Linked DNA regions of Homo sapiens. The protein of the gene in region 1 interacts with the protein of each later gene in a biochemical or structural test. Each region holds a gene or a part of one and is shown in the gene's direction. Other genes may lie near its edges.

What was found.
Region 2: the proteins of PEX14 (region 1) and TONSL interact in a test that uses a peptide from one of them, tested with the Homo sapiens proteins (one large-scale study listed by BioGRID and IntAct).
Region 3: the proteins of PEX14 (region 1) and KDM5C interact in a surface display test, tested with the Homo sapiens proteins (one large-scale study listed by IntAct).

What each region holds. Positions count from the first base shown.
Region 1 is NC_000001.11:10,621,430-10,625,073, forward strand, and holds part of PEX14 (peroxisomal membrane protein PEX14), read left to right. Parts: intron 1-1,589; coding exon 1,590-1,692; intron 1,693-2,910; coding exon 2,911-3,008; intron 3,009-3,644. UniProt on the Homo sapiens protein: Component of the PEX13-PEX14 docking complex, a translocon channel that specifically mediates the import of peroxisomal cargo proteins bound to PEX5 receptor.
Region 2 is NC_000008.11:144,437,815-144,441,458, reverse strand, and holds part of TONSL (tonsoku-like protein), read left to right. Parts: intron 1-347; coding exon 348-493; intron 494-552; coding exon of another isoform or gene 553-588; coding exon 589-741; intron 742-982; coding exon 983-1,108; intron 1,109-1,248; coding exon 1,249-1,438; intron 1,439-1,565; exon of another isoform or gene 1,566-1,983; intron 1,984-2,676; exon of another isoform or gene 2,677-2,723; coding exon 2,724-2,806; intron 2,807-2,898; coding exon 2,899-2,988; intron 2,989-3,125; exon of another isoform or gene 3,126-3,231; intron 3,232-3,644. UniProt on the Homo sapiens protein: Component of the MMS22L-TONSL complex, a complex that promotes homologous recombination-mediated repair of double-strand breaks (DSBs) at stalled or collapsed replication forks.
Region 3 is NC_000023.11:53,215,064-53,218,707, reverse strand, and holds part of KDM5C (lysine-specific demethylase 5C), read left to right. Parts: intron 1-309; coding exon 310-432; intron 433-741; coding exon 742-912; intron 913-1,430; coding exon 1,431-1,565; intron 1,566-2,510; coding exon 2,511-2,634; intron 2,635-2,731; coding exon 2,732-2,913; intron 2,914-3,644. UniProt on the Homo sapiens protein: Histone demethylase that specifically demethylates 'Lys-4' of histone H3, thereby playing a central role in histone code. Does not demethylate histone H3 'Lys-9', H3 'Lys-27', H3 'Lys-36', H3 'Lys-79' or H4 'Lys-20'.

The sequences.
Region 1 (3,644 bases):
TCTGCCTCCCGGGTTCAAGCGATTCTCCAGCCACAGCCTCCCGAGGAGCTGGGATTACAGGCATGCGCCACCACACTCAGCTAATCTTTATATTTTTAGTAGAGACGGAGTTTCACTGTGTTGGCCAGGCTGGTCTCGAACGCCTGACCTCATGATCTGCCCACCTCAGCCTCCCAAAGTGCTGGGATTACAAGCGTGAGCCACCGCGCCCGGCCAAGAATTCTTTACCTTTCTTGCTGAGGACATTTCATCCTGAAGTGTAAGGCTACCTTTGATGAGTTTTGGCTCAGTTGTGGGTAATAGCTCACACTGTGGTTGAAAAGCACTTTGCAAAATAGAAAATGCGTCTATACATGTGCTGCTGAAGAATGATCTTCACTTAGGAGTCACTCTGGAAATGAGTTCCCACAAACCCCTTGTGAGAGAGCTTCTTTTCCTTCCCTGGTACAGAAACCGTAATGGAGAAGTTTCCGTCCTCTTTCCTATCTGGGCCCAGATAGATTAAGAACCAAAGTTATCCCCGGGCAGCTCCTGCCAGGCTTGCACTGCACTGCCTCTGGCAGTGCCCACTGAAGGGGGCAGCGGGTCTCACTCCTCACCTGGGGGGCTTTGTCTCCATGTCCCGAGTGGCTGGACGTCAGTGCACATGTTCCTACACGCAGCTGTCCCTGCAGGCCCCACCACCCACCTCCACCCCTCCACACCCTCACCTCCAAGGCAACCAAGAGCACCAGTTGCCAGCCCTGCCCTGCCTGCCCCCTTCCTGAACGGCTCCTTCGGGCATCCCTGGTTCTAGGCCCCTGTGAGGGGTGGCCCTGCCGCATTCACTTTCTTTTTCCCCAGAGCCAGTTTCTTCTGGTCCTGCGCCTTCCTCTCCCTTCTGCCTTGTGTTTCCTTCTGGGGAACTCGACTTCTTTTGACTCTTACGTGAAGGAAGTTTGTTCTGAGGATTCAGGCTTCATTTAGAAAAAGACTGAGGTGACCTCTTCCAGCAGCCTCAGAGCGCACATGTTATCCCCTGGCGAGAGAACCAAGGGTCCCAGAAATGTGTTGTTGATTTTCCTTTAGTTTCTCCAGCGATGTTTTGTTTATTAATTTACTCGTTTGTTTCTGAATAGGTGATTCACTCACAGGTTCAAAATGTTCACAATTCAGGAGAACATGCCGGGAAGAGCTGCCCCGCCTCCCTCGCCTCCTGGAGGCTCCAGCATTATCTGTTGCTTGTGTGTCCATCCACATTTATATCTTACAACTTTGACAGTAGAGTTTATAACTTTGTGTTACAGAAATAGTGTAGCATCACTAAGAAAAGTAAATAAAGGAACCAAAAAGTTCCCATCACAGCAGATCCAGCTGACTCTCCCTGTCCACGTTCCCTCCTGGTCCTTGTCCTTATTCAGGCAGAATTTTTACGTGGTTGTAATCGCAGTCTCATAACTTTTTCAAATATCTTGTTCATTTATGGTGTTTGCTTAGGGTTTCCAAAACCCAGGGATGACAGGGAGAAAGTTGGGCGGCAGAATTTGAGAGATTGTTGGAGGATAACCCCGGGTCCGTATGCATTCCTCACCCTGTCCCGCTTCTTGCAGAAATACCTGCTCCCCCTCATCCTGGGCGGCCGAGAGGACAGAAAGCAGCTGGAGAGGATGGAGGCCGGTCTCTCTGAGCTGAGTGGCAGCGTGGCCCAGACAGGTAAAGATTAATGACTCCATCAAGTCACCCCTCACAGCCTTCTCCAAGCAGCCCCTTCTCTGCCCCTCCCCTCTCCCTCTGTCTCCACTCTATGTGGTGACTTCATTTATCTGCTCTGAGAATCTGTTCACATTTGCAAATGAAGCCGCCGTCATTTCGGTTTAATTTGAAATTGCTTGTTTACTGTCGGCGCGGCCTCAATTAATTATGTTTTTACGGAAAGGCTCCCAACCTCAGAATATTAATAAGGGGAATAAAATGACAGCCTTTCTAAGGGCTGTAAAGTTCATTTTTAATTTCTGCTTCTATGAGGTTTTCAGGGGGGTTTTCAGTGATTTTCCCCCTTCCCTCTAAGACTCGACTGTGGGGTCAAGAGAGTCTGTAATTACTGTGGCTCCCGGGACCCCAGCCACCTCCCCTGTTATCGACTCAACAGGGCTCGCGTTCATTACCCAGTGCCCCAGCGATGGCCCAGATTAGCTGGGACCTGTCGCGCCAGAGGTGGCTTCTCTTCTTTATAAACTTGTTTACTAGACGGCAGCTCTGAATCTAAAAACCAGAGCAAGGCCAATGAGAGAGCCACCTGTCCCAGGCAGGAGTCTGTGTCCCTCTGGAGCACGTTTGTGAAGCTCACAGAAACCCTCTGACACGTCCATCCTGCTGCCGTTTGCTCCTGCGAGGCTGACATTGGTGGCAACAAGGTCCTGAGGGGTCACGGGACACCAGGGAGTTGAGCAGGCAGCTTGGGTCAGGTGGGGAGGGTGGGAAGGAGCAGTGGGAAACAGGACGTGCGGCTTGAGCCACTCCTGGATGTGAATGTGGCGGGGACCTGAGATGCATCTCTCCCAGCATTGGAGACCCCAGGAGTTTCACAAGGACACTGAGGCCCAGGAGATGAAGGACGCAGGCGCCAGAGAAGCCGGGAGAGCTCAGCAAATCATAGCCAGCTCTAATTAGAGGGGAGAGGTTCTGGACGGATATACTGTTGACCATGGACAACTACACAATGGAAAGATAAAGTAGAAATACTAGAGGTTAGATACAGTGCAGGCAGATCACCCAGAGTGCAGATAAATTAGATGGATTGCGGGGGCTGGGGGTGTCTGCAGATAAATTAGATGGAGCGGGAACACGGGCAGCTCCGAGGTGTGCGGACCGAGCGAGGGGAACGTCTGTGCCTGTGAATTTGCCAGCGCCGTGACTGCTTTCTCCTCGCAGTGACTCAGTTACAGACGACCCTCGCCTCCGTCCAGGAGCTGCTGATTCAGCAGCAGCAGAAGATCCAGGAGCTTGCCCACGAGCTGGCCGCTGCCAAGGTACCTGTCTCTGCTGCACAGGGCCCTCCAGGCCCAGGTCTGTCCCATGTGCCCTTCACTCTTGTCCCTTGGGCCGGGCTTGCCACCTTCGGGAGCTGGACTTTGCCCCAGTCTCACAGTGGTTACACAGCCGTGGCCGATGCTGCCCTTTCTCTCCTTGTAGAGACAGGAGGCTGTTGCTGGGCAGTCAGTGTGACGTTTAACTGTCGAGGCCATCCTTTCTCTCTCTATGTCACCTCCCAACAGGAGGAAGGAAAAGCTACCCTCTGCCTGTGGAGATCTCATGGCAGCCACATCCCCGCAGCTCTGGAGGCTTTCTGTGTAGACATGGGACGGTCTCTACCTATAAGTTAGGTTGCAGGTCACAGCATGGCCAGGAGGGGTTCTGGAACAGACAGGGGAGAAGCGAGTCGCAGTCAGTTCACCAGCACCAGCCCCATCCACACCGCAGTGCAGCGGGCAGGTTCTCTAGACTCAGGTTCCATGGGTTCTGGCAATCCTAGGGAGCCAGAACCAACTCCCAAGGCAGTGTCCTTGCCTCACTGCCCAAATGTGAAGAAATCTTGGCGTGGCAGCTTCCAGGATCAGGCTGAATCCTGGTCCTGCCACTTGTTAGCTGTATGACCACAGGCAAGT
Region 2 (3,644 bases), on another chromosome or scaffold:
CACCACACCCGGCTGATTTTTTGTATTTTTAGTAGAGACGAGGTTTCACCATGTTAGCCAGGATGGTCTCGATCTCCTGACCTCATGATCTGCCCGCCTCGGCCTCCCAAAGTCCTAGGATTACAGGCGTGAGCCACTGTACCTGGCCCCGAGTTTTTAAGTGTGTTAGTTCTTGTGACCCTTGAGACCAGTCCCCAAGATAGACCCTGCTATTAACCCCCACACCAACAGGCAGGCAGAGGTGTGGAGAGAGTGGGGGGGCCACCACAGGGCTCACAGCTTGCAGGTGGTAGAGCTGGGGTCAGGGCCCCCTGTGCTGCCCCCCTGCATGAACCTCTTCCCGGCAGTGCTGGCAGTGGTCCGGCTGCAGCAACAGCTGGAAGAGGCTGAGGGCAGAGACCCTCAGGGTGCCATGGTCATCTGTGAGCAGCTAGGGGACCTCTTCTCCAAGGCAGGAGACTTTCCCAGGGCAGCTGAGGCTTACCAGAAGCAGGTGTGTGGCCCCGGCTGGGTGGGAGGGAAGGGCCAGTGAGGTTGACGAGGCCTGGCCAGGGTGGCAGCCCCTGGCCTCACTGGCACTGCCCCCAGCTGCGTTTTGCTGAGCTGCTGGACAGACCGGGTGCTGAGCGGGCCATCATCCACGTGTCCCTGGCCACCACACTGGGAGACATGAAGGACCACCATGGGGCCGTGCGCCACTATGAGGAGGAACTGAGGCTGCGCAGCGGCAACGTGCTGGAGGTGAAACCCTTGCTCCCCGCCCGAATGCAGGTTCACCCATGTCTCTGCCTCAGGACTGCCGTTCTCAGGGTGGCCATGGACAGGTGTCCTTACTGGACGGGCAGCTCCTTCCTAGGACCATCCACCCTCGGCAGCTGGGAGGCCGGGCTCCCATTTCGTCTGGGCAGCCGGGGAAGCTTGACTGGGGCCCGTTGGACGCAGACAGCGGCAGCCCCCGACCCTGTCCTTCCTCCTGCTCCAGGAGGCCAAGACCTGGCTGAACATTGCACTGTCCCGCGAGGAGGCCGGCGATGCCTACGAGCTGCTGGCCCCGTGCTTCCAGAAAGCGCTCAGCTGTGCCCAGCAGGCCCAGCGTCCCCAGCTGCAGGTGCGAGAGCCCATCCCACCCATACTGGCTCCCCGGTGAGCCCAGCTTCGTTGCAGCCTGCCTGCCCCTTGTGCCCCATCCCCATCTTTCTCTGCGTCCACAGCCCCCAGTCCTGAGCTGAGCATCCCTCTGCTCCTCAGAGGCAGGTCTTGCAGCATCTCCATACCGTGCAGCTGAGGCTGCAGCCCCAGGAGGCCCCTGAGACCGAAACCAGACTACGGGAGCTCAGTGTAGCTGAAGATGAAGATGAGGAGGAGGAGGCGGAGGAGGCGGCAGCCACAGCGGAGAGCGAAGCCCTGGAGGCCGGCGAGGTGGAGCTCTCAGAGGGCGGTGAGGGCCAGCGGCACCTTGCATTTCCCTGGGCCTGCTCTGGGCCGGGCTGGAGAGGGGTGTGCTGTGCTGCTGTGGAGCCTGCTTAGGGCTGTAGCAGGAACAGCCACAGGCAGGCAGGACGGCCAGTGCTTTCCCGGAACTGGACAGAGAAGGTGGTGACCCGCAGGGAGCCTGGGGCGGCCTTGGCCTCCTGGAGGAGACAGTGGTTGGGAGTCGAGTGAGTGTCAGCTGGGGCATGGTCCCGTTAGAGAGGCACGTGCCATCTGGGGCCAGGGGTGAGACGGTGCACTTTGAAGAGCCCCGGCTGCCTCTGCAAGAGCTGAGCACCTTCCTGAAACCCTTCAGAGCAGGCTTGGGTTTCCTCCAGAGGCTGGCGACATCAGCTGCACGGAGGGCAGGCATGAGGGACTGGCTGGAGCGGGGCTTGGACTGAAGCCATCTTGGCCGTGGTGCAGGGAGAGAGGGCTGAGAGCGGGGTTAGCGGGTAGCTGGGAGGCTGGTTTCTGACTGAGTGGTGGGTGGCAGGAGCCTGTCCATGAGGCCTGTTGGGGGGTGTTCCAGGGAAGGCTGTGACTTCAGCTCTGAACTCGAGGGCGTCGTTAGAACCCTGAGTGGCCAGGCAGCTGTGGGAAGTTGGGGCCTTGCCAGGTTGGTTGCTGGGGGGAGGTGGATCAGGATCTAGAATTTTGGGGAATGCTGCTCAGCTGGTGGGCACAGTGAGGAGCTGCGGAAAGACCCAGAGGCAGCTGGCAGGGTGTGAAGGGCGTGGTGATGAGGGGTCACCCGAAGCAGGGACGGAGGCGGGTGTGTCTGCTGCCTAGGCAGGGTGGAGGCTGCAAGGTGCAGGATACCCAGGCTCCAGGGCTGACCTGGCCTGACGACACAGCTCAGGAGATGGGGGTGGATAAGGCGTGGGGTGGAGGAAGACTGGCCCACGAGCCGGTCTGGGCGTGGGGATGAGTGGCTGGCGCATGGACAGAGGGGGCCTCGGGCAGGCCTTCTGTGGGAGGGCCAGGCGTGGGTTAGGGCAGAAAGCTCAGGGGTGTGTCTCAAGTGGGCAGAGGGATGGTGGGCAGGAGCAGGGTCCCAGCAGGGTCAGGGAGACATGGAGGCAGCGCTGGGACCATTGCTGAGGAGCCCCCAGAGCCCAGCAGCCTCAGAGCTCAGCCCTCCCGTCTCTGGCTCCTTTGTACCTGGGAGTTTGGGGAGCTTGCAGCAGGGTGGGGGCTGCTAACCTTCACCTCCCACGGACTCCCCTGGGGTGGGCTTGGCTCTGTTCCAGAGGACGACACCGATGGCCTGACCCCGCAGCTGGAGGAGGACGAGGAGCTTCAGGGCCACCTGGGCCGGCGGAAGGGGAGCAAGGTGAGGACAGTGCCCTGCCCCCACCCACCCCGCTCAGCAGCCCTGCCAGCTCCTCACGCCCCTGCCCTGTGCTGGGTTGGCTGTGCCCACAGTGGAACCGGCGAAACGACATGGGGGAGACCCTGCTGCACCGAGCCTGCATCGAGGGCCAGCTGCGCCGCGTCCAGGACCTTGTGAGGCAGGTGGGCCCCGCTCTGGGACGTGGGACAGGCTGCCTAGCATGGAGGAGCTGTGCGTTTGTGCCGGATCCCCTATCTCTGTAACTCTCAACTTCCTCATCTTCAAAATGGGGCCCCTTAGCAAGCATGGTGGCACTTGCCTGTGGTCCTAGAGGCAGGAGGATCACTTCATCCTGGGAGGGAGATTGAGGCTGCAGGAGTCGCGATCATGCCACTGCACTCCAGCCTGGGCAACACAGTGAGACCCTGTTTCAAAAAAATTTAAAAAGCGGAGGCTGCACGGGGTGGCTTATGCCTGTAATCCCAGCACTTTGGGATGCCAAGGCAGGCAGATCACATGAGCCCAGGAGTTCGAGACCAGCCTGGGCACCCTGGCAAGACCTTGTCTCCAAGAAATTTAAAAATTAGGTGGATGTGATGGCGTGTGCCTGTAGTCTCAGCTGCTTTGGAGGTTGAGGTGGGAGGGTTGCTTGAGCCTAGGAGGTGGAGGCTGCAGTGAGCCATGATCTTGCCACTGCACTCCAACCTGTGTGACAGAGCAAGACCCTGTCTCAGAAGAAAAGCCACAGGCCGGGTACAGTGGCTTATGTCTATAATCCTAGCACTTTGGGAGGCTGAGGCGGGCGGATTGCCTGAGGTCAGGAGTTTGAGACCAGTCT
Region 3 (3,644 bases), on another chromosome or scaffold:
GCTACTCAGGAGGCTGAGGCAGGAGGATCACTTGAGCCCAGGAGGTCAAGTCTACAGTCAGCCGTGATTGCACCACTCCATTCCAGCTTGGGCGACAGAGCAAGACCGTCTCAAAAAAACAAAAACGAAAGAAATGAGAGTGAGGTGGGGCTAAGCACTGCCTAGAGTCTGGGATCCGGTTCATTGGGAGAAACCCTGGGTAGTGAAAGTGTGGAGTGCTGTATTCCTCTGTTCTCCCCTAAGACTGGACCCAAAGATAGTGGTCAGTGGGAGGGGGTGGCCAGCCTCTTTGAGCCATTTCTTCTTCAGGCCCAGACGAGAGTGAAACTGAACTACTTGGACCAGATTGCCAAATTCTGGGAAATCCAGGGCTCCTCCTTAAAGATTCCCAATGTAGAACGGCGGATCTTGGACCTCTACAGTCTCAGCAAAGTAAGAACAGGTTTTTGTCAAGCACCCCTCCCACCAAACCCCAATATCCTTGATACTCTGGGGGCCCCCTTAGTTTGGATATTAGATCTTTAGGCTGCAATGGAAGGGGCACAGCTTGGTAGCACACAAGCTGTCATCAGAACATCTTGGAATCTTTTGCTGCAATTTGAGGTTGGGATAAGGGGATAGCCCCCAGTGAAGTGAGGGACTAGAGTTGCCCTCATTGCCCTTTTGCCCTTTCTACAGGCCTACTCCCTCACATATAAATACACGTGGCACATCCATGTCTTTTCCTACTTGTTTTTTCAGATTGTGGTGGAGGAAGGTGGTTATGAAGCTATCTGCAAGGACCGTCGGTGGGCTCGGGTAGCCCAGCGCCTCAACTATCCACCAGGCAAAAATATTGGCTCCTTGCTACGCTCCCACTACGAACGCATTGTTTATCCCTATGAAATGTACCAGTCTGGAGCCAACCTTGTGGTAAGGATGTCACAGTGGGGCAGGGTGCGGCTTTACCCTTCAGCACAGATTTCCACACTTGCTCTTAATGAAACTGGTTTAGTGGACTGGAGACCTGGGAGTTGGACTCTGCTCTTTCCTAGTGATGCTTATTCTCTTTCTACACTGCTCAGGGTCAGAGGTCCTGGAGTTATCTGTACGGCTAGCTTATTTGTTATGTGACAAAGTTTTAACTGATAGAGAAATCAGAGAAGGGAGAGCTTGGGCTAGAAGGTGTGGGAAGAGATGGCGTCTGATTTAGTTGGGGAGATGGTTGGTGGAGGAAGTGACTGGAAGGGAGGAGTGATACAAGCAAAGGTACTGAGAATTCCCAAAATGTGTGCTGGTGTCAGTGCTAAAGACCAGTGGAACAGGGGCTGTTGGTGTGGGTCAGGTGAGTGGACCACAGCTTTGGATGCCATTGGGTGAGGGTAGAGGGAAGTTATTGCTTTTGCGGGCTGGAGTCCATGTCCTGACCCTTACCCCTTACCTGTCCCCAGCAGTGTAACACACGTCCATTTGATAATGAGGAGAAGGACAAGGAATACAAACCCCACAGCATCCCCCTACGACAGTCTGTGCAGCCTTCCAAGTTCAACAGCTATGGCCGGCGGGCCAAGAGACTGCAGCCTGATGTGAGTACTCCCCTTCTTCGAACTTAGAGCTTTGAGGTGGAGGGAGTCCTCTCCTTCCTTCTGGCTAAGGCTGTGTTCCCTGTTCCATTATCCCTTCTTTTGTTCTCTGAGTTCTTCTGAGCATTAGTGTGCCTCTCTCTGGCTTCACTCTTGCTTTTTTCTCCCCTCTCAGCTGAGCTGCTGAGCTGGGTCTTGATCTGTTTGTGCAACCTCTTTTGTATGTCTGCTCTTCTTGCCTGTTTTGTTCCTTTCCGGACTTACTCTGCTCATAGAAGTAGAACTCTTCTTTCTCTTTATACCTGTATCTTTTGTTTTGTTTTGTTTTGAGGCATAGGGTCTTGCTATGTCGCCCAGACTGGAGTACAGTGGCTATTCACAGGCTTGATCATAATGCACTATAATCTTGAACTCCTAGGCTTGAGTGATCCTCTCACCTCAGCCTCTGGAGTAGCTAGGACTACAGGTGTGTACCACTGTTCCCAGCTCCTTGTAGCTATGTCTTCAGGCAGAAGCTTATGTGCCAGGCATTCTTGGCACTGGGAATACAATAGAGAACAAGATGGACACTGTCCCTGGGCTCATCGAAGCATGTAATTTAGCAGATCCTATTAGACTGCCATTTGTTGGTAATGCCAAACACTGTTAGCTTTTTCATATGTATTGTCCCTAACCCCCCTCATAACTATAAGGGAGGAGGTAATATTCTCATTTTACAGTTGGGAAAACTGAGATATCCTGTCTTTTATTCCTTTCTGAGAGAGGGCCGAGGGGGCAGCTCACCTACCCTCAGTCTCCAAAAAGCAACTCTGAGTTCTTGGCTTAGCCCATCTGTGCCTCAGCCCTCAGCATGAGATCAGGTGATATGTAGTCCGAGTTACTGTTCTTTTAGGATGGGACAGTCTGCCCCAGATAGCAGTCTTGATTCATTTCCTTCTTTCCTTCCAGCCGGAACCCACAGAGGAAGACATTGAGAAGAATCCAGAGCTGAAAAAGCTACAGATCTATGGGGCAGGCCCCAAGATGATGGGCCTGGGCCTCATGGCCAAAGACAAGACTCTGCGGAAGAAAGGTAAGGCCTAACAGGCTGGGGTGGCCTCACCTGGGGAGAAAAGTCAGGGCCCTAAGTGTCCTAGACCTGTGTTTACAGCCATTTTTCTCTCTCCCAGATAAGGAGGGGCCTGAGTGTCCCCCCACAGTAGTGGTGAAGGAGGAGTTAGGTGGGGATGTGAAGGTGGAGTCAACATCGCCTAAGACCTTCCTGGAGAGCAAGGAGGAGCTGAGTCACAGCCCAGAACCCTGCACCAAGATGACCATGAGGCTACGGAGGAACCACAGCAATGCCCAGTTTGTAAGGACCCAGCCCTGACTTCTTAATGCTCTGCTTCTTGTCCCTTCAATAAGCATTCCCCTGCATGGCACTGGACCAGTTCGCATTAACCACAAAAGCGGGCCTCCATGGGCCCTGCCCTCAGGTAGCTCACTTAATTGGGGAAACAAAGCCAACTCATATGGAACAAAGAGCAAGAAAGGGTGATCAAGTGCTGTCAACATGAAGTGCTGGAAGGGTCCAGAGAAGGAGTCTCACTCTCCATTGCTTCAGGATAAAGGCTAAGCTCCTCATTACCATGCATGATCCAGTCCCTGCTGACCTCTAGCCTCATCCCCCAGCACTGCCCACCTCACTCCTCTGCTATAGCCACACTGAACTCCTTGTAGGTATGTTCATTTTTCCCCGTAAGATGCAGTATGCTCTTTCATCCCTATCCTTTGCACATGTTGTTTCTTCAGCCTGGAAGAGATTCCCCCTGTGCTCTGCCCTGTTGCCATGTTTTGTTTTGCCTTCAGGTTTCAGCCAGTTTCAGGTGTTACCTTTTCAATGAAGTCCTTTCTCAAGGCCATCCCTCCTTATCTCCAGCTGCTTTGAGTGCTTCCTTCTCTAGGCTCCCACAGTGCCCTTTATGGACCGCTATTGGCAATTTTTAATTTTTATGAACACATGTCTCTAGAGTACTGTATATACTTGGAAGGATACCATGTCTTGTCTTTGTGCTAGAGTCCAGCGTAGTTCTGAATACGGGT